Linked DNA regions of Homo sapiens. The protein of the gene in region 1 interacts with the protein of each later gene in a pairwise test. Each region holds a gene or a part of one and is shown in the gene's direction. Other genes may lie near its edges.

Region 1 (7,026 bases):
CACTTGTTTGTTTTTTGACTCCATAAATATGCTCTCTTCTTACTAATTATTCTTTCTTTCTTTGTCAAACAGGCTACCAAGCAGTTTCTCGAAGAGATTAACAAGTGGACAGTTCAGTACAATGTTTCCCCGCTGTCTTGGAATGTGGCTGTCAAGTTCCTCATGGCAAGGAAGTTTGATGTGCTCCGTGCCATAGAATTGTTCCACTCCTACAGAGTATGTGGCTCAGGGGTAGACCAGACCTGTGGCAGTTGGGTTAAGTGTTGCTGTTGTCCCTGTCATGCTCGACACACACATTGGTTCTCTAAGTGTTCCTCCTCACTTTCATAAAAAATGGATCCATATCCAGGAGCCCTTGTGAGAGCTGAAGCTGGGCAAGGCAGCTACTGGAAGGCACTACTTTTGTACCTAAGTTTTGATCGTAGACCAGGATGCCACATCTAATGATTGAGACGGAGGAAGTAGCCTGACAGCATCCTGGTGGCAGGATAGGGGTTCACCCTTCCTAGAGTTTTAATCCTAGCTCTTTTCATTGGCCTCTGGCCACATGAAAATCTTGGTTTTCAGGTTGTCTAAGGCTTTTAGAAACTTGCCATTCAGATGAATGATGAGCTTAGTGGGCAGTTCAGGAAGGGAAGTTTTAACACTGGAAAAGAAGAGCAACTGTGTATTAGCTAGGTCCATTATCTTAAAGTATCTTTATGCAAATGTAGCGGCATCAGGATTTTACTTTGTTTTGATTTTTGTTTTTTGAGGGGGCATAGACTTTGGTTTTGTGCTTGTTTGCTTTCTCAGTTAGTAGTGTCTTTGATAAAACACTATACAGCATGTTACTTTGGGGTCAGAATCCTTCTAAAGAAATACAAAATCTCCCTAAAAAAAAAAATTGGGATAACAAGCACTAGGATTAGCTTAACTGAAGTTTGGTTACATCTGTCTTGTGGACCAGCTCATTCAATATTCATTCATTTACTCAACAGATACTTATTTTATACTTACTGTGTTCCAGGTGCAGAGATTACTATTTAGAAAGAGAGACTAGGGCTGGGTGCGGTGGCTCATGCCTGTAATCTCAGCACTTTGGGAGGCCAAGGCAGGTGGATCACTTGAGGTCAGGAGTTTGAGACCAGCCTGAACAAAATGGCAAAACCGCATCTCTACTAAAACTACAAAAATTAGCTGGGTGTAGTGGCACCTGTATTCCCAGCTACTCGGGAGGCTGAGGAGGGACAATCACTTGAACCAAGGAGGTGGAGGTTGCAGTGAGCCGAGATCACACCATTGCATTCCAGTCTGGGCAACAGAGTGAGACTGTTTAAAAAAAAAAAAAAGAAAGAGAAAATAAACAAAGAGTTGTAGAAATGTTATGATAAGGCAGCACTGGATTCTGTGGAAGCACTTTTTTTTTTGAGACAGAGTCTTGCTGTGTCTCCCAGACTGAAGTGAAGTGGCATGATCTCAGCTCACTGCAGATCTCTGCCTCCTGAGCTCAAGTGATCCTCCCACCTCACCTTAGCCTCCCGAGTAGCTGGGACCACAGGCATGCACCACCATACCTGGCTAATTTTTTGTATTTTTAGTAGAGACGGGGTTTTGCTATGTTGCCCAGGCTGGTCTCGAACTCCTGAGCTCAAGTGATCCACGCACCTCGGCCTCCCAAAGTACTGGGATTACAGGCATGAGCCACCGTGCCCAGCCTAAGAGGTTTAAAACAAGCGGTTGATGAAATAAGACAAACCAAGATAATATTTTTTTGTTATCGGTATATAAAGGTAGAGAATGTCTCCGGAAAAAGGAAGTGTAGGTGGTCAACCTTGTCATTTAAGAGGAGAACTGAAGAGGCTGGGCGCGGTGGCTCATGCCTGTAATCCCAGCACTTTGGGAGGCCGAGGCGGGTGGATCGCTTCAGCCCAGGAGTTGGAGACCAGCCTGGGCAACATGGCAAAACCCCGTCTCTACTAAAAACACAAAAATTAGCCAGGCATGGTGGCACGTGCCTGTAATCCCAGCTACTCAGGAGGCTGAGGCAAGAGAATCTCTTGGACGTGGAGGTTGCAGTGAGCCAAGATCATGCCACTGCACTCCAGCCTCAGCAACAGTGTGAGACTTGGTCTCAATTAAAAAAAAAAAAAGAATCTGGCCATCAGGGTGAGGAAAATGAAGTCATGGTAGCTGCTGTTGGAGACAATATCAGGTGGAGAGAAGGCTCCTATTTAAACATAGGAGAGGCCTAAACCTAGAAAATATGTGAGAACGTAGGCATCCAGACATTTTTGAGGTCCATATTTTAGTGTCCTGGTACCATGTCAGTGCTGCTGCGTGTTTAAGAACCTTGATCCTGCACCTGAATGTAACATACTGGTTACTCTTCAGGGTTAGGGTTCTTACTGAGTCAGAGAAAAATACCCTACCTGAGGGGCTGATAAAGTAGCTTTGGACAGGAATTCCGAAAATGCTTGACTGGCTTGGAGGCAGGTTACAAAGAAATTCATAATTCATTTAGTTGACTTCATTATTCATTTAGCTGAATTCTTTTTTTTTTTTTTTTTTTTTTTTGAGACAGAGTCTCATTTTGTCACCCAGGCTGGAGTGCAGTGGTGCTGTCTTGGCTTACTGCAACCTCCACCTTCTGGGTTCAAGCGATTCTCCTGCCTCAGCCTCCTGAGTAGCTGGGATTATGGGCGCGCACCACCATGCCAGGCTAATTTTTGTATTTTTAGCCGAGACAAGGTTTCACCATGTTGGCCAGGCTGCTCTCGAACTCCTGACCTCAGGTGACCTGCCCGCCTTGGCCTCTCAAAGTGGTGGGATTACAGGCGTGGGCCACTGCGCCCGGCCCATTTAATTGAATTCTAATTCAACTAAATGAAGTAGAATTGGTTATGAAATTAGTTACAAAATTTATTTAGTTATGAAATTTATAATTCATTCATTCATTGATAACCACCTTATCTCTGAGATTTGGTGGTTACATGGTGCTGTCCTGGATATACAGTATTTTCATATTAATACATTTTGCTGTGCTTCCTTTTTAGGAAACTCGAAGGAAGGAAGGCATTGTAAAGCTGAAACCTCATGAGGAACCTCTTCGTTCTGAGATCCTCAGTGGAAAATTCACCATCTTAGTGAGTGTTTAGGGACCTATCTTGTAGGGCCTTATTACTTCCTTTTTTAACTGGTGTCCTGTTTGGACTTTGTTTTTTTTTTTTTTTTTTTAATTTTATTATTATTATACTTTAAGTTTTAGGGTACATGTGCACAACGTGCAGGTTTGTTACATATGTATACATGTGCCTTGTTGGTGTGCTGCACCCATTAACTCGTCATTTAGCATTAGGTATATCTCTTAATGCTATCCCTCCTCCATCCCCCCCTGTTTGGACTTTGTTCCTATATACCTTATCCTGAATCTAGAGAGTCTCCACAGTTAGGAGCAGATGTGAAACAGCCATGCAGTTTGGTATAAAATTATTTTAGTAACAATTGAATTACTAATAGTTTCTAGTAATTAGAGTTACTAATGATAATTGAATAATTGAATTATGGAAAATCAGTTGTACAGTAGACTTAGAAAAGTTTCTTCAGTTGGTCCATTAAGGTTAGTCATGGTCTTTGGGAGAGATATGCAATGTGTCAGACACCCATGCTTCCATATTTAACGCAAGCTCTCCACTTAGTTGAGACCTCAGCCTTTCAAGTAAACATACAATGGCACTTTTAAGGCAGAGGGTGGAAATCATGGTCCTGTTCCCTGGTTCTCTCCTGCTGCTTGTTTCTTTTGCCATTCTGCCAGGGAAGTTAGCTAGGAAGCCAGTGCACAGCCATCCTTTGATCTGTCTGTAGTTGAAGAGCAAAGAGAATGTGTTTTTTTTTTCTTACCACAGAAATATGGTCCAGGGAGTCCTGGGAGAATCAGACAAAGGATGATATTAACACTCTTCCCTTTGGACAGCAATTGGTGAAGTCAGGGAATTATTGTTAGCATCTGTTTTCTACATGTATCAAACCCTTATCCAGTATATAAGTCTTAGTAATTGCTGTGATTTTCTATTTGATTTTTTTAATGTTTCTTGTTTTATTTGCTTTAGAATGTTCGGGACCCAACAGGAGCCTCCATTGCCCTCTTTACTGCCAGGTTGCATCATCCCCACAAGTCAGTCCAACATGTGGTACTTCAGGCTCTGTTTTACTTGCTAGACAGAGCTGTGGATAGGTAAGCATTGAGATTATTTTTTAGGTATTCTACATGCAGGTAGGAAAGTGACAGTTTTTTACTTGATTAAATTCAGCAGTGCCTTCGCCATTCTCCTAGGATGTGCCCTGGGCAATGCTATGAATAGAAAACAATCCATGTCCTTTAGAACTCGGCATGTTTGCAGGCACTATCAAGATGGTGGGCGTTCTCTTTACCACCTTGGCTCTATGTCAGGAAAACAGAAGCTGAGAAAGTCAATTATCGGCAATCTTCAGTGTATGGAAAACTACTTATTGGAAAAGAATGAGGGGGAGATGACCTGTGCTGGTTCTTTTTGCTCATATCAGAACCTCTAAGGCCTCAGTTTCTTTGTCTGCATAACAGGAATAATGCCGTTTAGTTCAGAGGATTTTGAGACTCAACATTCAGGGGAGGGCTGGGTGCAGTGGCTCACACCTGTAATCCCAGCACTTTGGGAGGCTGAAGCAGGTGGATTGCTTGAAGCCAGGAGTTGAGACCAGCCTGGACAACATGGTGAAACCCTGTCTCTGATAAAAAATACAAAAAATTAGCTGGGTGTGGTAGCGTGCACCTTTAGTCCCAGCTTCTTGGGGGAGGTGGGGGAGGTTGCTGAGGTGGGAGGATCACTTGAGCCCAGAATGGTGAAGCTGTAGTGAGCCATGATCACGCCACTGCATTCCAGCCTGGGTGACACAGCAAGACCTGTCTCAAAAAAAACCCCACAAAAAAGCCCACACAAAACAAACAACAACAACAAAAAAACATTCAGGGAGAAGCCCAGAAGTATAAAGTTAAGCAAAAACCATCCTTAATAAAAAGAGGTGCATAAGCATAAAGAACCAGCTCAGGTCATCACTCTCTTCCTGCTAAGGTAATTGGTATTGTTACAATTCAATTGACAATTAAACTCAAGCCCCAAGAAGTTTTTTACAGTCATCATATGTTAGTCCAGCTGGTTCTAAGATCCTGGTTTCTTCACTCTTGGGCAGAGTTATTTCTGTCCTCCCATGCTGTTGTTCTGCTATTCCTTTTTCCCTGGTGCTTGTAATTTACAGTTTCTTACTGCTCTCGACATCTTTGGCTGGTCCTCCGGATTAGAAGTGCTATATTGAGGCCAGGCGCATTGATTCATGCCTGTAATCCTAGCACTTTGGTTGGCTGAGATGGGCAGATTGTCTGAGCCCGGGAGTTTGAGACCAGCCCTGGGCAACATGATGAATCCACTCGCTTCTTGAGGGCAGGAAACTTTCTTTTTAACATCCGAATCTCTGTAGGTTGAGAGAGAATGGTATCGTGAACATCCACATATCCATCATCCGTCTTCTTCAAAGTGATCTGTAACAGTCTTGTTTCATTGGTAGCCCCTCATGGATCTCCTATCCTCAGTTTCTTTCTTTTTTGTTTTTTGAGACTAGGGCTTGGTTTGTCACCCAGGCTGGAGTGCAGTAGCATGATTGTAGCTCACTGCAGTCTTGAACTCCTGGACTTAAGCAATCCTCCCATCTCGGCCTCCCAAAATGCTGGGATTACAAGCATAAGCCATTGCATCTGGCTTCTCCGTTTTTTTAAAACCAATGTCAGGGACTGTATTTTAAACTTCTTGGTGTTTTCTGTAACATGTAGCTCAAGAATTAAAAAAATATTTTTTTTATTTTTTTTTTCCTTTGAGACGGAGTCTCGGTCTGTCCCCCAGGCTGGAGTGCAGTGGCGCTATCTCAGCTCGCTGCAAGCTCCGACTCCCGGGTTCGTGCCATTCTCCTGCCTCAGCCTCCCGAGTAGCTGGGACTACAGGCGCCTGCCACCACGCCCGTTTTTTTTTTTTTTTTTTGTATTTTTAGTAGAGATGGGGTTTCACCTTGTTAGCCAGGATGGTCTCGATCACCTGAGCTCGTGATCCACCCACCTCAGCCTCCCAAAGTGTTGGGATTACAGGCGTGAGCCACCGTGCCCGGCCCATTGTAAATCTTAAACTGGGTGCAGTGGCTCATGCCTGTAATCCCAACACTTTGGGAGGCCAGGTGAGAGGATCGCTTGAGCCCAGAAGTTCGAGACCAGCCTGGGCAACATAGCAAGGCCTCGTCTCTACAAAAAGTTTAAAAATTAGGCAGCCAGGCATGGTGGTATTTGCCTGTAGTCCCAGACACTCACGGAAGGCTGAACTGGGAGGATCACCTGAGCCCTGGGAGGATCACCTGAGCCCTGGGAGGATCATCTGAGCCCTGGGAGGTCGAGGCTACAGTGCGCCATGATTGTGCCACTGCACTACAGCATGGGCAACAGAGTAAAATGCTGTCTTAAAAATATATATATTCTGGTGGCTCACGCGTGTAGTCCCAGCACTTTGGGAGTCCAAGGGGGTGGATCTCCTGAGGTCGGGAGTTTGAGACCAGCCTGGCCAACATGGTGAAACCCCGTCTCTAGTAAAAATACAAAAAATTAGCCAGGCGTGGTGGTGGGTGCCTGTAATCCTAGCTACTCGAGAGGCTGAGGCAGGAGAATCACTTGAACTTGGGCGGAGGTTGCAGTGAGCAGAGATCGCACTATTGCACTTCAGCCTGGGCAACAAAAGCGAACTCTGTCTCAAAAAAAAAAAAGTATATGTATATATATACACACATATATAAACACACACACATCTATCTATCTATCTATCTATCTATCTATCTATCTATCTATCTATTCTATACCCTAAAGTGTGAAAATCTTACTGCATTCATGTTTTATGTGCCTTCACAGGATGAGCACTTTGATCTGGGAATATAGAACCTGGATCATTCATTATGCATCCAAGCTTCTTTTTTTTTAAATTC
Region 2 (6,801 bases), on another chromosome or scaffold:
AGCTTCCACATGAGATAGATCACCAGGGGTGGGTGCAGCCTGTAGTCCCACGCCTCTGGGCATCTCACCCCAGGGGCTGGAGGGGAGGATCTCATTTCCTTCCCCTCAGCATCTGAGTCATAGTGCTGATAGCCAGGAAAGTGGCCCTGGCCATTGCCCCTCAGGACCATGTCCCTACAGCCTCGCAGCCCTGAGTTTGCATGCTACGGGCAGATGGCTGCTGCCTCATCTCCCAGGGCCCTCGAGGGGTGCTTTTCCTCCAGGAAATACTTTGCGGCCCACTGTCTGCTGGCAGCCGGGTGGGTCCTCATTCCCTGCAAAGTCCAGCCTGTTAGACAGACGTCTCCTAGAGCCTTTCTGAGAAAAAGCTGCTCACAGCTCACTGGCCACTTCCTCCAGGCCTGGTGAAGGCAGAGGGGCGCCTCTTCCCAGCATCCCTGTCAAAGTCCCTGTGTGCAGGAGCCTGAGCTCCTTTCCTGGGCTGTGGGTGGCTGAGTCCTTGCTTTAAGGCCTGTTTTCCTGTGTCAGCCACACAAGGTGGCCCCAGCCCCTGGGCAGGTGGTAAGAAGCATAGGTCCTGGACCCACCCTGGAGTCCCGTGTGCAGGAACAGGCTGTGGACTCCTATGTGAAGTCCATTCCTGGGGCTCAGTGTCTCCTGCAGTCTGACGCTCAGTTATGTGGAGAAATGGGCAGTGGGACTGTCCAGGCTGAGAGCCTGGAGACCTCCAGCACCTGCGGGAAACCCCATCTCCATAGTGCACATTCTCGATACTCTCGTGGCCTCCGGGGGCATCAGGGGGCTAAGCTGAAGGACCCGATGGCCTCTGGTGGCCCTGGCCCAGCTGCTCTGTCTGCTCAGGAAACACCGCAGCATAAGGCCGTCCAGAGGAACGTAGGGCTTTGCCAGATGTCGAAGCAGACAGTGGCCTTCGTGTGGCAGCTGCTCCAGATGTGGAAAGGTCACAGGGGCCGCTGGCTGCGGGCTCATGCCAGGCAGGGGCAGGCCGCCTGAGAGGGTTTGCTGTGGGACCGCCCTGGGCTCTGAGCCCTGCCTGCGGTGGTGCAACCGGCGGTCTGTTCACGCCCGTCTCTGCTGTCGGCCCGCAGGCTTCATCATCTACTTTGGCTATGGCCTGTGGCACAGCGAGGAGGCGTCCCTGGATGCCGACCAAGCAAGGACTCCTGACGGCAACTTGGACCAGTGCAAGTGACGCACAGCCCCGCCCCCCGGAGGTGGCAGCAGCCCCGAGGGACGCCCCCAGAGGACCGGGAGGCACCCCACCCTCCCCACCAGTGCAACAGAAACCACCTGCGTCCACACCCTCACTGCAGCCAAAGGTGCAATTACTTGACCTGCAGCCCCAGCCCACCCTCGGCTCTGCAGCCGGTTCTCCGGGCCCTGGTCACCTCCAGACAGCTGCCTGGCCGGGGCCACTAGGCTGCGGCTGGCCACTGTGTCTCCTCACTTCTCTGAACAAAGCAGTTCCTCCCCTACCAGCTCAGCCCCGAGCTGCCGCAGCCTCAGGCAGAACGGAGGTCACCTTCTCTCCTTATCTTGGGAACCAGGCCTTCCTCCCGGGGACTGTTCTGGGATTGAAATTGTGCATACTCCAAACTTTCGCAGCCATCTTCCCGCTCAGCCCCAGACACCCAGCAATCAAGCCAGATGAGTACCACAAAACAGTGTGTCCCCAGCAGCTCCCCACCCCAGAGCCAAATGACAGTAGTGCACTTAAAAAGGAAAATCAGGCCTGTTGTCCTTCTCCGGTTGCATTCAGATGGGTCATTAGGGCCGGACCCTGCCTGCCCCTTGGCTTCTCAGGGCTTTGCTCTGACACCATGACAGCTGCCCGGGGCTGAGGGCAGCTGGCTCCACTCAAATGAGGAAGAAGGGATCACTCCCATTAGGGCCTGCTTTGCTTATGCATGTGTGTGCACATGCATGTAAACCAGGGACCTTCAGCTCACGGCCTCCAGGCCTGGGCCAGTTCTTGCTGCTCCTGCCGTCTCCCCCGACTGGCTGTGTCCTGAGTAACTGGAACATGAGACAGTATCTGCAGGACTGGCCCCATGGTGGCCGAGTCAGAAGTCTGTTTCCTGTGAGTCGCCACCGTTCACTCAGTCTTGCCCTCCCATGCTTTGGAGCCAGTCTGGTGGCTCCTGTAAGGTTCTCAAGGCTGGTGGCAGCTCAGTCTGGGGTCAGGACATGTCGGGGTCATGCGTTTCTGGCCCTGACATAAGCTGTCTGGCCTCTCTGTGACATGATGAAATTGAAATCAATCCACAGTCCATGAAATTGTGACACTCCACCAGATTAAGTTAGGGCATAACATTAACTTGGAAATGGCCATGTCATCACCCCTGCGGCTGTCCTATAGCTGAGATGCGTGGGTCGCAGGGGAGGTGATTTCTAGGCATATTGCTGTCCCTTTTGTGTATCTGTCATCCGGATGCTTCGGACCCCACGCCTCTGCAAGTGGGAGAGACCCGAGCATCCTCCCCACCCCCATAGCTCCAGTGCACGCCACCCCCGTCTTGCCTGGGTCGGGGCCTGCGGCCAGCACCATTTCACACACACTCCTTGTAGATGGGAGCCAGAGGAAACCTGAACGTGGGTGGAGCGTTCCACTGAGTCTACTTCAGGAGACAGAAGGCCCATGCTGATGGGGGAGGAGGAGGGATGTGGGCATTTTGGACACCAGGGGAAATGGAAATGCTGCTTTCAAAACTTAGTTTCCTTTCCATTTCTTCCTAGTCTGGCCTTTGACACAAATCTGGTAGAAAGAAGCCTGATAAATTGAGGGCACTTGTACCCTCCCTGTGCCCCCAGAAGGTTCTTGGAGAGAAGTGCAAGAATTTGTGAACACGGCGGTGGAGGGCGGGTGGATGGCCATGGGCTGAGCCTCCGTATCAGGCCTGCTCACCTTGCTGGGAGCTTTATTCTGATCTCATTTTGAATGTTCCAGAGGGAGCATCATAAGAGCCCAGAGCTCCGATTTCCAAAGAGTGATATTGACATTTATGGAGATTGGTGTTGTAACATATTTTGATAAATACTAACTTATTTTGTTGGGGTTTTGGTTGTCTCTTGTCTTAGGACCTGGTAGTTATTTGCTTGATTTTTTTTTCCGTTATTTTCTACATAGGCAAAGAGAATTCGAGGGATAGACAGTCTCCAAGAAAAGTGAAGTGGTGGGAGAGAATTGCTTTTTTCTTTTTTTTCTTTTCTCTAGTTTTTCTTTCTGGCTGAGATTTCCGTGCAAGACAGCACCCAATAGACTATTTAGAGTTGACATTTGACATTTTAATGGGCGCCATGGCTCATTTTGTAGATTGAGAAGGTGCGTCTCCCCTGCTCCAAGTCTCATCATGACAGCGTGCTGACAGCTGGGAGTCTGTGGCCTTCCTCACGCAGAGGCCTTAAAGCTGGACACAGAAGCACGCCTAGGCTGGGCAGGGATGGGACCCATGCCCCCTCCTTAGAGGACGGGCTTCCTGGTTAGGAAAGGACACGTGGGGGTGCCTTGCATAATAGTTCACTGGTCACCGTGCTTTTATGAGTAGTGTTTTTGTGCACTTGCCAGGGGTTTTCTCTCTGTGTGAGAGGGGAGTGATTTAAGCAATGGTGTCTGGAGTAAGCCTTACAATTTTAATAGACTTTTTCTTATCATATCCCTCATTTCTTTCCCTGAAATAAAAATACACACAAGCAAAAAAAAAATGATAGTTTCACATCTCTTAGTTCCCTTGCCCAAACAAGAATATTCTTAGTTCCACTGGCCAGGATTTTCCTACATAGTCAGAACTTACACATTACTAGAGGCACACCCACCAAGGAGTATTGTGTCTACTTTTATCTGTGCACCAGCCACAAATACCCACATTGGAAAGACCCATTTGTGATGGGTAAACATCCCTTCCTGTCTCCCACAACCCCTGTGACTGCCCTGCATGTGTTCATGACCTCCGAAGGCCCAAATTCATGAAGCAGCAAACCCAGCAGATCTCCACCCCCCTGCCTCAGGACCTCTGCTGAAGAGGGGGATGAAGTGGGTCTCCAGGGAGGCAGTGGGGGCCTTGTTGGCAGCTGGCTCGGGAGCCGGCTTACAGGAGGGCAGCTCTGCAGTTGGGAGGGGCACCGTCCGGAGGAGACCAGGCCTCTACACACCCCCCACTCTACTTATCATCCCTGCTCACACACCCTTGTCCAAGGCTTTATGCATCGGATTTATTTTTCCAAATCAAGAGGACAGTGATAGATGCATTTTCCCCAGGCTGTCTCAGAAAGGTCGCTAAATGTATACTGTTGTCAGAATTGCTGAGATCTCCCCCCACTTTTGGTTTTTGCAGCAGTAAAAACTCTTTCCACTGTGACTTATTTTCTCTCTCAGGCAGCCAGCCACCTGGTCCCTTGTGCTGACTCTAGCACAGTGGCCAGGATCCAATACGAGTCCAGGGGTGACCGCAGGATGGTGGGGGCAGCGGGCTTCTCCACCTACCCCAGCCACCAAGGCCCTGACGCACTGCCTCCTGCACCTTCAGCACATCCCTGTGCACAGCTGGAAGGGTGCATGGCCCGCTCACCTTTGTTCAGATGGGTGGAAACGCTGATGATACCAGCTCCTCCCTGCCGTGCCCCTGCCACGGAGCAGGCATTGTGAACTGGCTGGTGTTTGCAGTCCCACGTGGCATGGCCTCCAGCCCAACCCACAGTGGAGACTGGAGACAGGGCAATGAGTCTGGTGGGGGGCACGTGGACATGCCCCATAGGGGCCCCACCCAGACTTAACAGGCAAGGTCCTGGGCATTGCGCGACGCAGGACTCAATGCTAAAGCAAGCCTGCCTGGCTCTGTGCCAGGGCCCCTCTTCTGATTCACACATCCCATTTTTACACAGACCCTTCCTTCTTAATAAAGGCTGACAGTTCTGTTGGCAGCCAAGAACCCACACCATGAAGACAGGGAGTGAGGGGCCTTTGTGCCCAACTCCAGCACAGCTGCGTTCTGGGGTGTGTGAGAGGCATGTTCGTGTCTGTGCGCTGGTGGTCTCGTGAGACAGTTCCGAGGACGGGGAAATTGCAGGGTGGTGGGGGCGTGAGGCTTATATGTGGAACTGATGCAGAGTTCGCCTGCAGACGGATCTGGATATACACTATGTATAATTGTTACGTGTAATTTAAAATATATCTGTTTGCCATCGTCATGAGAAGATTATATGTAAGGCTCTGAAGGGAGAGGGAGATGTACATTCTGCCAGGCTCCTGGGGACCTTATCCGAGTCATGAAATTGATTACTGTTGATCCAGTGGTGCAAGAAGCTACACTCCATGTGTCATCACGCTTATGACTCCTAATGTATTTTTAAGGCAAAAAATGTCAGCCGACTCCATCTTCACCCCTCGATTCCTCGAGTCCAGCCTTTCTGTGCCAGTGCTTCACTGAGCCACAACGCTCTCGCCATCGGGACCCGGCTGGGCCTGGAGTCTCGGGGCACAGTTGCCATGGAGCCCTCCTGGGTCATTCTACAAATGTGCTGAGTGCCAGCTGAAAACCCCACAGGAGATGGAGTACCTTGGCCAAGCTTAAAGAGAAGATTTTCTCAGGGTATTTATTAGTGTGTCCAGCAGGGTCAGGAAGCAGGATGGAAAGATGCACTCAGACTGTTAATTTATTAACAAGGCAAATGATTTTGTGTTTCTTGATGACAGACTATTAAGTTTGGGACTTATTTTCCCATTTGAGAAGTTATAATATATATTTAAGATGATAAGTTTCCTGCTTAAGTTGTGCCTTTCAGCTTCAATGAGTTTAAGGAGCACTAAGGGTAATGATACCAATGAGGGTTGGTTTATTATCAAACCTGAATAGCTGTGGTTTCTCCAGTAAATATTTTCTTCTACTGAACATGGAGCCATTATTAAGAGTTGTGTGTTTTTTATTATGTACATTTGTATATTTTTTTGCTTGTTTGATGTTCTATTTTTCTAATAGTTTTCTTTTAGTTTCTTAAAGTTGTGATACTAGATTTAGATTCTGATGCTAACTGCAAATCAGGTTGGTCTCTGCTGGGTCTCTCCTGCTTTTATTTTACTTTAAGGACAAGTGTAGTTGTCGTCCACCACCTTTCAAAAAATGTGAAACTGCCCTGCCTCCCCTTTTTGCTGACAACACTGTGTACATTGACCACTTCCTACCATACTTTATGTTGTAAAATCAAACTCTTTTGTGGTACATTATCTCATGCTTCTGCAAATTCGAATAAATTCTATGGCTTCCATGTGCATGGTGTGATCTCAAGAATCCTAGTGGGTCTCTCCTGGGACCCAGGCCTGGAAGTGCCCCATGGAGAGTTCCAGATCCCGCTCTGCTTCCCCACAGCCCGTGACTTTAGTCCTATCTTCTCACTTTCCTGTAGCCATTTGGGGAAAATCCTTATTCCAACAATTTGAGCCTCAACCAGAGAATCCCTTGAGCCCCCATTTTGGATCTCTGATACTGTCTGCAGATTTATTTGGCTTTGGGGCCACAGAGGTCTTCCTTCCAACCAAGCTGTTGGGATAAAGCAGCTCAGAGGCTGCCAGTTGTCAGGCATTTGCTGAAGGACTTGGTCTCTGGCAACAAAACGCCCTCACCTGTTGCCGCCCCAGTCTGTGCTGGCCTGCACATACACTATCCTGTTAGAGGGAGCAGAGTGCATGCAGGGCGGAGGGGCTGTCGGGGAGTGTAGCTATCCTGGTAATTGTTACTATCTCACTCCCTCAACTCCCTTGAGAAAGGATCCATTTTTGCACTAGAGGCA
Region 3 (7,321 bases), on another chromosome or scaffold:
GAGTGCCTCCAAAATGGTGAGTAGGAATGAAGACTTCCAGACACTTCTATTCTTGCCTTTACCCAGAATTCTCTTGCTTCAGTGTTTTCCCCATTTTCATGAGCCCATGTGTGAAATAGGGTAAGGAACTGTGGAGGAGAAAGTTTTTTATTAGCCTTCCTCAGGGTATTCCATTCTCAATCTATCCTTTCTCAGTCCCAAAAGGCCTACTGAGCTGAACTGCCTAAGACATAATCATTCACCAAATATTTAAATACACACATTTAAAGAGATACAATTCCAGATGCAATGGGAGACAAAAAAAAAAAAAAGTTGTCAGGGCCATCAAGAAGCTTTCACAAGGTGAAGGGAGGGCTGGAGTATCTCAGAACATTGTTACTTAAAGTGTGGTAGTGGGCCAGCAGTATAGGTGTCACCTAGGAGATTGTTATTAATAAAAATGCATAAATTCAGGCCCTACTCCAGACCTACTGGACCAAAATGTGCGTGTTAGTAAGATCTCCAGGTGATTCTTAGGCACAGAAAAGTTCTAGAAGCACTGGCCTGGAAGTGGAAAGTACTGTGAGAATTCAGGGTAATTGTGCTTTTTAGCATTTTACATAAAATTATGTTGTTGAATTTTCATAATCCTATGAAGTAGGTGCTGTTACTATATTTGACAAAGAACGAGATGAAGTGTCTTGCCTGGCTGGCACAAATAGAGGTGGAGCCCAGTTTCCAATCTCTTCTGACTAGAAGAATGTCAGAGAGGGACATTTAGTGTAAAGGAATAACAGATGGAAAGTTGCAGGTGGTATTTGAAGTACCAAAAATACCACAGTTCTGTAATGTGAGTGTTGTTTGTGAAGGTGAATAGTGGGAAATACAATTTGAAGTGTAGGTGAAAGCCAGGTTATTCAACTCAAACTCCACAGTCATATGGTGCTGACATTTCTTCATTTGAGTATAGAGATGGGAAACGTGCATATTTTTTTCTGTGAATAACATGTAACCTACGAAAAAGGCAAGTTTTCTTTTCTGAAAGAAACTTACTCATTTTTGTTATTTTTTGAGGCGAGGTCTCATTAGGTTGCCCAGGCTGATCTTGAACTCCTGAGCCCAAGCAATCTTCCCACCCCAGCCTCCCAAAGTGCTGGAATTGCGGGCATGAACCGCTGCACCCGGCCAGAAACTTCTAAAACTCAGAAAAGTTGCTCCTCCTCACCTCCTACCCCAAGGTAAACTGTGATACCTCCTGGCTTTATACTACTGATTTTATACCCTATTATATAGAACTGTGTCTAGAGAGAGTGGCCTATCCCTCTGTGACCTTCTTGGTCTACTCCTGCAGGAGTGGCTTCTGTGACAGACTGCATTTGGAGGTTTGATTCACTCTGGGGAAGGTAACCAGGATAGGCAAGAGATTTAAAAATCTGTCAGCATGTATTTGACAGGTATAACCTGAAAAAAAAGACCAGAGGCGTAGGAAAGCTATCTAAATGGTTAAGAAGCCAAATATTTACAAAGCATATACCATCTGCTAGCCCCTGGGTGGTAGGTGTTGAACAAGACTCATTTCCTGCATCATAGAGATTTAAGAATCCAGTAAGGGACTGGGTGCGGTGACTCATGCCTGTAATCCCAGCACTTTGGGAGGCACAGGCAGGAGGATATTTGAGGTCAGGAGTTTGAGACCAGCCTGGCTAACATGGTGAAACCCTGTCTCTACTAAAAATACAAAAATTAGCCGCGCTGTAGTGGTGCATGCGCCTGTAATCCCAGATACTAGGGAGGCTGAGGCAGGAGAACCGCTTGAACCCAGGAGGCACAGGTTGCGGTGAGCCAAGATCAGGCCACTGCACTCCAGCCTGGGCAACAGAGTGAGACCCTGTGCCCCCAACCTCCCCACCCCCAACAAAAAAAATAATCCAGTAGGGAAGACAGACATTAAAACAGTACAAATAATAAAGTAAAAGTGCTTTTAAACAGGGGGGGTGGAGGGGCTTATGAGAAGGGGACCAAAAAAGGACAGCAAAAGCTTCATTGAGGATAATGTTTAAACTGAAACCTAAAGAATCAATAGAAGTTAGCCAGGCAATAATCTGTAGTCCCAGCTACTCGGGAGGCTGAGGTAGGAGGATCACTTGAGCCCAGGAGTTAGAGGCTGTACTGTGCAATAATCGCACCTGTGAATAGGCATTGACCTCCAAGCTGGGGGAGGAGGGGGAAGCTAGGCAAAGAACAAGAGTAATCCAATTATGTGCCAAAGCTTTGTGGTTCAACAGCTTGGTGTGTTGGTGACATTGATAAGACTACTATAGCTGGAGTTGAAAGAACAAATGGCAGAGGAAGAGAAGACTTGGTAGGTAAGCAGGGACCAGGCATTTTAGTGCCCTGTTAGCCATGTTACAGATTTTGGATTTTGTTTGAAAGACAATGAAGAACCTATAAGAATTTTTCAAAGGCGGACTGGGTGCTATTTCTCATGCCTGTAATCCCAGCACTTTAGGAGGGCAAGGTAGGAGGATCACCTGAGATCAGGAGTTCGAGACCAATCTGGCCAATATGGTGAAACCCCATTTCTACTAAAAATGCAGAGATCAGCCAGGCGTGGCACGTGCCTGTAGTCCCAGCCACTCAGGAGGCTGAGGCAGGAGAATCGCTTGAACCCAGGAGGCAGAGGTTGCAATGAGCTGAGATCGCACCACTGCACTCCAGCCTGGGCAACAGAGCGAGACCCTGTCTCAAAAAAAAAAAAAAAAAGAATTTACCAAAGGCTTGAAAGTAGGCATTGCCTAAGTCAGTAAGTCCTAATAGGGCATGATATGGAAGACTACTGAGTGGAAGTGACTGACAGATGAGTGGGTGGATGCCACTATTAAAGGTAAACTGAAGGCCGAGTGTGGTGGTTCACGCCTGTAATCCCAGCACTTTGGGAGGCCTAGGCGGGTGGATCACGAGGTCAGGAGTTCGAGACCAGCCTAACCAACATGGTAAAGCCCCGTCTCTACTAAAAATAAAAAAATTAGCCAGGCGTGGTGGCACATGCCTGTAATCCCAGCTACTCAGGAGGCTGAGCCAGGAGAATCGCTTGAACCCCAGAGGCAGAGGTTGCAGTGAGCCAAGATTGCGCCACTGCACTCCAGCCTGGGAGACAGGGCGAGACCAAAACCCCGCCTCAAAAAAAAAAAAAAAAAAAAAAAAAAAAAAAAAAAAAAGCCCTGTTTATATCCTACCTCCTTGCTGGGTGCAGTGGCTCATGCCTGTAATCTCTGCACTTTGGGAGGCCAGGGCAGGTGGATCACTTGAGGTCAGGCATTCTAGACCAGCCTGGCCAAAATGGTGAAACCCCATCTCTACTAAAAATACAAAAAATTAGCCAGGCGTGGTGGCGGGCGCCTGTAATCCCAGCTACTCAGGAGGCTGAGGCAGGAGAATCGCTTGAACCTAGGAGGCATAGGTTGCAGTGAGCTGAGATCGCACCACTGCACTCCAGCCTGGGCGACAGAGTGACACGCCAGCTCAAAAAAATAAAAATAAAAAATCCCATCTCCTCACATTTCCATTCAACCTCAATACAACTCAGTTTTTTTTATTATGTGAAAACAGCTGCAACAGCTGCTGTCCATTTGAATTGTTGGAAATGTAGATCTACACTAACCAAGAGAGAAGCCACTAGCCACAGGTGGCTATTTAACTTTTTTTTTTTTTTTTTTAGATGGAGTCTCGTTCTGTCACCAAGGCTGGAGCACAACATCAGCTCACTGCAACCTCTGCCTCCCAGGTTCAAGTGATTCTCCTGCTTCAGCCTCCCAAGTAGCTGGGACTACAGGTGTGCACCACCACGTCAGGCTAATTTTTGTATTTTTAGTAGAGACAAGATTTCACCATGTTGGCCAGGCTGGTCTCGAACTCCTGGGCTCAAGTGATCCACCTGCCTCAGCCTCCCAAAGTGCTGGGATTACAGGCGTGAGCCACCATGCCCAGCCAAATTTAGTTAAAATGTAAAATGCAATCTCTGCTGCACTATTCACATTTCAGGTAACTAGTGGTTACCATATTGGACATGGCAGATAAAGAACATTTTCATTATTGCAAAAAGTTGTACTGGACAGCACTATGCTAGAGCCAGAACTAGCCAAAGATCAGACAAAGCAATATGAATGAACTGAAAACCCAGGCCGGTGCCTGGTTGGTTTTGAGTAAGATTCATTGGTTGGGTGAGTGGGAAGCAAGCTGACCTTTGGAACAGTGACATCACAAAGCACAGCTCACAATGGCTCTGGAATACCTAGGCCTCCAGACTACTCCCCCTAACTCATATTTAGATTCCTGAAGCTTCTGCACATGTAGTTCCTAGAGCTGCTGCTTATTAAAATGTCAACATCTTCATCTTCTAGCTGGGACAACCTCTTAGAGTCTCTCTCTCTCAGCACAGTATGGAATTGGATACAAGCAAGTTTTTTGGGAGAGACTAGTGCACCTCAGCAAACAAGTTTGGGACTATTAGATAATCTTGCTCCAGCTGTGCAAATCATCTTGAGGATTTCTTTCTTGATTTTATTGGGAATAGGAATATATGCCTTATGGAAACGAAGTATTCAGTCAATTCAGGTTATACTCTTTTGTTACAAACATTTATATAGTTATAAATTGAAATTTGATTAGTTCTCTCCCATATTGCTGCCACCAGTTTTAAGATCATGCAGATGTGCAAAGGCGAACCTTTGTCTCTTAAGTTGGCAAAAACTAGGTTATCCTTGAAAATCTCCACCAATTAGGCTTTGGGCATAAAAATGCTTTTCTCACAATGGTCTTTGGCTTGTCTTCTGTAATAAAATAGACCAAACATGTTGGTAACCTGAAAAGACAGCCTTACCCTCAAAAATTTTTGATCACTTATTCATCTTTGAGTGCTACTATGTTTATACAATAGGCACCAAAGTAGCTAGGATCATGAGTATGGCCTTTCTTACTATGCCATTGTTCTGTAACTGATAAGGAGGCATATGTATTAAGTCATCACAATGTGTTCATTATTGTGTTTTGACAAGATAAGGCTCCATAAGTATATAGGAGCTCTTTGGGGAGTAGGAATTTAACTGGCTGGGATTGTGAGAGACAGGATTTTACATACTTCTGTGTAGTCACCAATAATAATAGTTGACATACAATATAGTTGAATGCTTTGAGAATCTCAAAAATTCCATGAAATGGATGGAGATTATTTTCACATGACAAGTGAAGAAACTGAGGTGCACTGAGGTTCAGTGGAAACTTAAGGTGACAGGCTTTTAAAACGGCTTTCTTAGAGTGACAAGTTTACTTGATAAATGCAGAGAGAAGTTGTTATTGGATCATTTTTTAGCATTCACTTATTTTCATATGTCACTATTGTTTAGTAATCATGGTCACGGGGCCTTTCTATTTTAAACCATCACAATCCTGCATAACAGTCAGGGAGAGATTATTTGCTCCATTTTGTAGATGAGAGAACTTGATTGCTACCCACCCAAGTTCACATAGTTTGTAAGAGCTGGCAAAATTGGAGTTTGAATCGAATTTTTAGGATTTGAAATTCAGTTCTTCTCCAAAATCTCATTTAATGCAAACCAACTGACCTAAATCTTGAACAGGAATGTGTGTGTGTGTGTGTGTGTGTGTGTGTGTGTGTGTGTGTGTGTGTACGCGCATGCGCATATATATGTGTATTGTGAGGATTAAAGAAGATATTGTATGTGTAAATCTTAGCACATATATTCAATAAGTGGTGCTACAGTGAAACCCCATCTCTACTTAAAATACAAAAATTAGCCGGGTGTGGTGGTGGCACGCGCCTGTAGTCCCAGCTACTCAGGAGGCTGAGGCAGAAGAATTGCTTGAACCCGGGAGGTGGAGGTTGCAGTGAGCCAAGATCGTGCCACTGCACTCCAGCCTGGGCGACAAAGACTGTGTCTCAAAAAAAAAAAAAGTGGTGCTAGTTGTTATAATAAGGAACAAGATGATTTTTTTTCTTATCCTAGCAAGAATCTGTCCTACTATACATATTCTTTTGTTATTTATTTATTTATTTTGAGATGAAGTCTTGCTCTTGTCCCCTAGTCTGGAGTGCAATGGTGCAATTTCGGCTCACTGCAACCTCTGCCTCCCAGGTTCAAGCAATTCTCCTGCCTCACCCTCCCGAGTAGCTGGGATTACAGGCGCATACCACCACACCCAGCTAATGTTTTGTATTTTAAGTAGAGACAGGGTTTCACCATGTTGGCCAGGCTGGTCTCGAACTCCTGACCTCAGGTGATCCGCCCACCTTGGCCTCCCAAAGTGCTGGGATTACAGGCATGAGCCACCGTGCCCAGCATATGCTTTATTTTTATTTTTTATTTTTTTTTTATGTTTTAGAGACAGTGTCTTGCTCTGTCGCCCAGGCTGGAGTGCAGTGGTGTCATCATAGCTCACTGCAGCCTCAAATTCCTGATCTCAGGTGATCCTCCTGCCTCAGCCTCCTGAGCAGTTGGAACCATAGGCATGCACCACCAGGCTTGGCTAATTTTAAAAATTTTTTTGTAGAGACAGGGTCTCGCTACGTTCACTATGTTGCTCAGGCTGGTCTTTAACTCCTGGCCTCATGCAATCCTCCCATCTCAGCCTCTCAAAGTGCTGGATGCAGTGGTCCACACCTATAATTTATTTTATATAAATAAAATATATATATATATACATTAATTTTTTTAAGAGACAGGGTCTGGCTATCTTGCCCAGGCTGAAGTGCAGTAGCCATTCACAGGTGCCATCATAGCACACTACTCCTGGGCTCAGGTGATCCTCCCACCTTACCCTCCCTAGTAGCTGGGACTATATGTGTGTGCCATTGTACCCAGATCTCTCCTAGTATATTTTAAAAACCTTTTCCATGACCAAGAAATCCAGTTTTTCAGACTACTATGTCCTAAAGTGTACTTGGAAGTGTGAATTTCTGGATTCCTGTCCTGGCTCTGCCACTTCCAATATATAACCTTGGACAATGACAGAGTTCAAACTAGAAGGTATATAGTTATCCAGTTGTGTTTTTTCTGCATAAATAGATCATGCAAAGGCAAAGTTACTTCCAGACATTCAGAAAATGGTTATCTATTATTACAATCTTGATTAAATGCAAATAATAATCCTGCCTGACCTGCCTACCTCTCCAGTTTGCAGTGAAAATCAAAAGATGAAATAGGTGTGAAAATATTTTGCTAAGGCCGGGCATGGTGGCTTACGCCTGTAATCCCAGCATTTTGGGAGGCCACGATGGGCGGATCACGAGGTCAGGAGATTGAGAACATCCTGGCTAACACGGTGA

Evidence for each region.
Region 2: the proteins of PTPN9 (region 1) and SLC7A1 interact in binary tests that used the Homo sapiens proteins (3 or more experiments, as listed by UniProt).
Region 3: the proteins of PTPN9 (region 1) and TMCO2 interact in binary tests that used the Homo sapiens proteins (3 or more experiments, as listed by UniProt).

What each region holds. Positions count from the first base shown.
Region 1 is NC_000015.10:75,520,308-75,527,333, reverse strand, and holds part of PTPN9 (tyrosine-protein phosphatase non-receptor type 9), read left to right. Parts: intron 1-72; coding exon 73-216; intron 217-3,035; coding exon 3,036-3,125; intron 3,126-4,088; coding exon 4,089-4,213; intron 4,214-7,026. UniProt on the Homo sapiens protein: Protein-tyrosine phosphatase that could participate in the transfer of hydrophobic ligands or in functions of the Golgi apparatus.
Region 2 is NC_000013.11:29,508,892-29,515,692, reverse strand, and holds the end of SLC7A1 (high affinity cationic amino acid transporter 1), read left to right. Parts: intron 1-1,109; coding exon 1,110-1,213; 3' UTR 1,214-6,279; downstream 6,280-6,801. UniProt on the Homo sapiens protein: High-affinity, low capacity permease involved in the transport of the cationic amino acids (arginine, lysine and ornithine) in non-hepatic tissues.
Region 3 is NC_000001.11:40,243,638-40,250,958, forward strand, and holds the start of TMCO2 (transmembrane and coiled-coil domain-containing protein 2), read left to right. Parts: upstream 1-4,299; 5' UTR 4,300-4,356; coding exon 4,357-4,593; intron 4,594-7,321.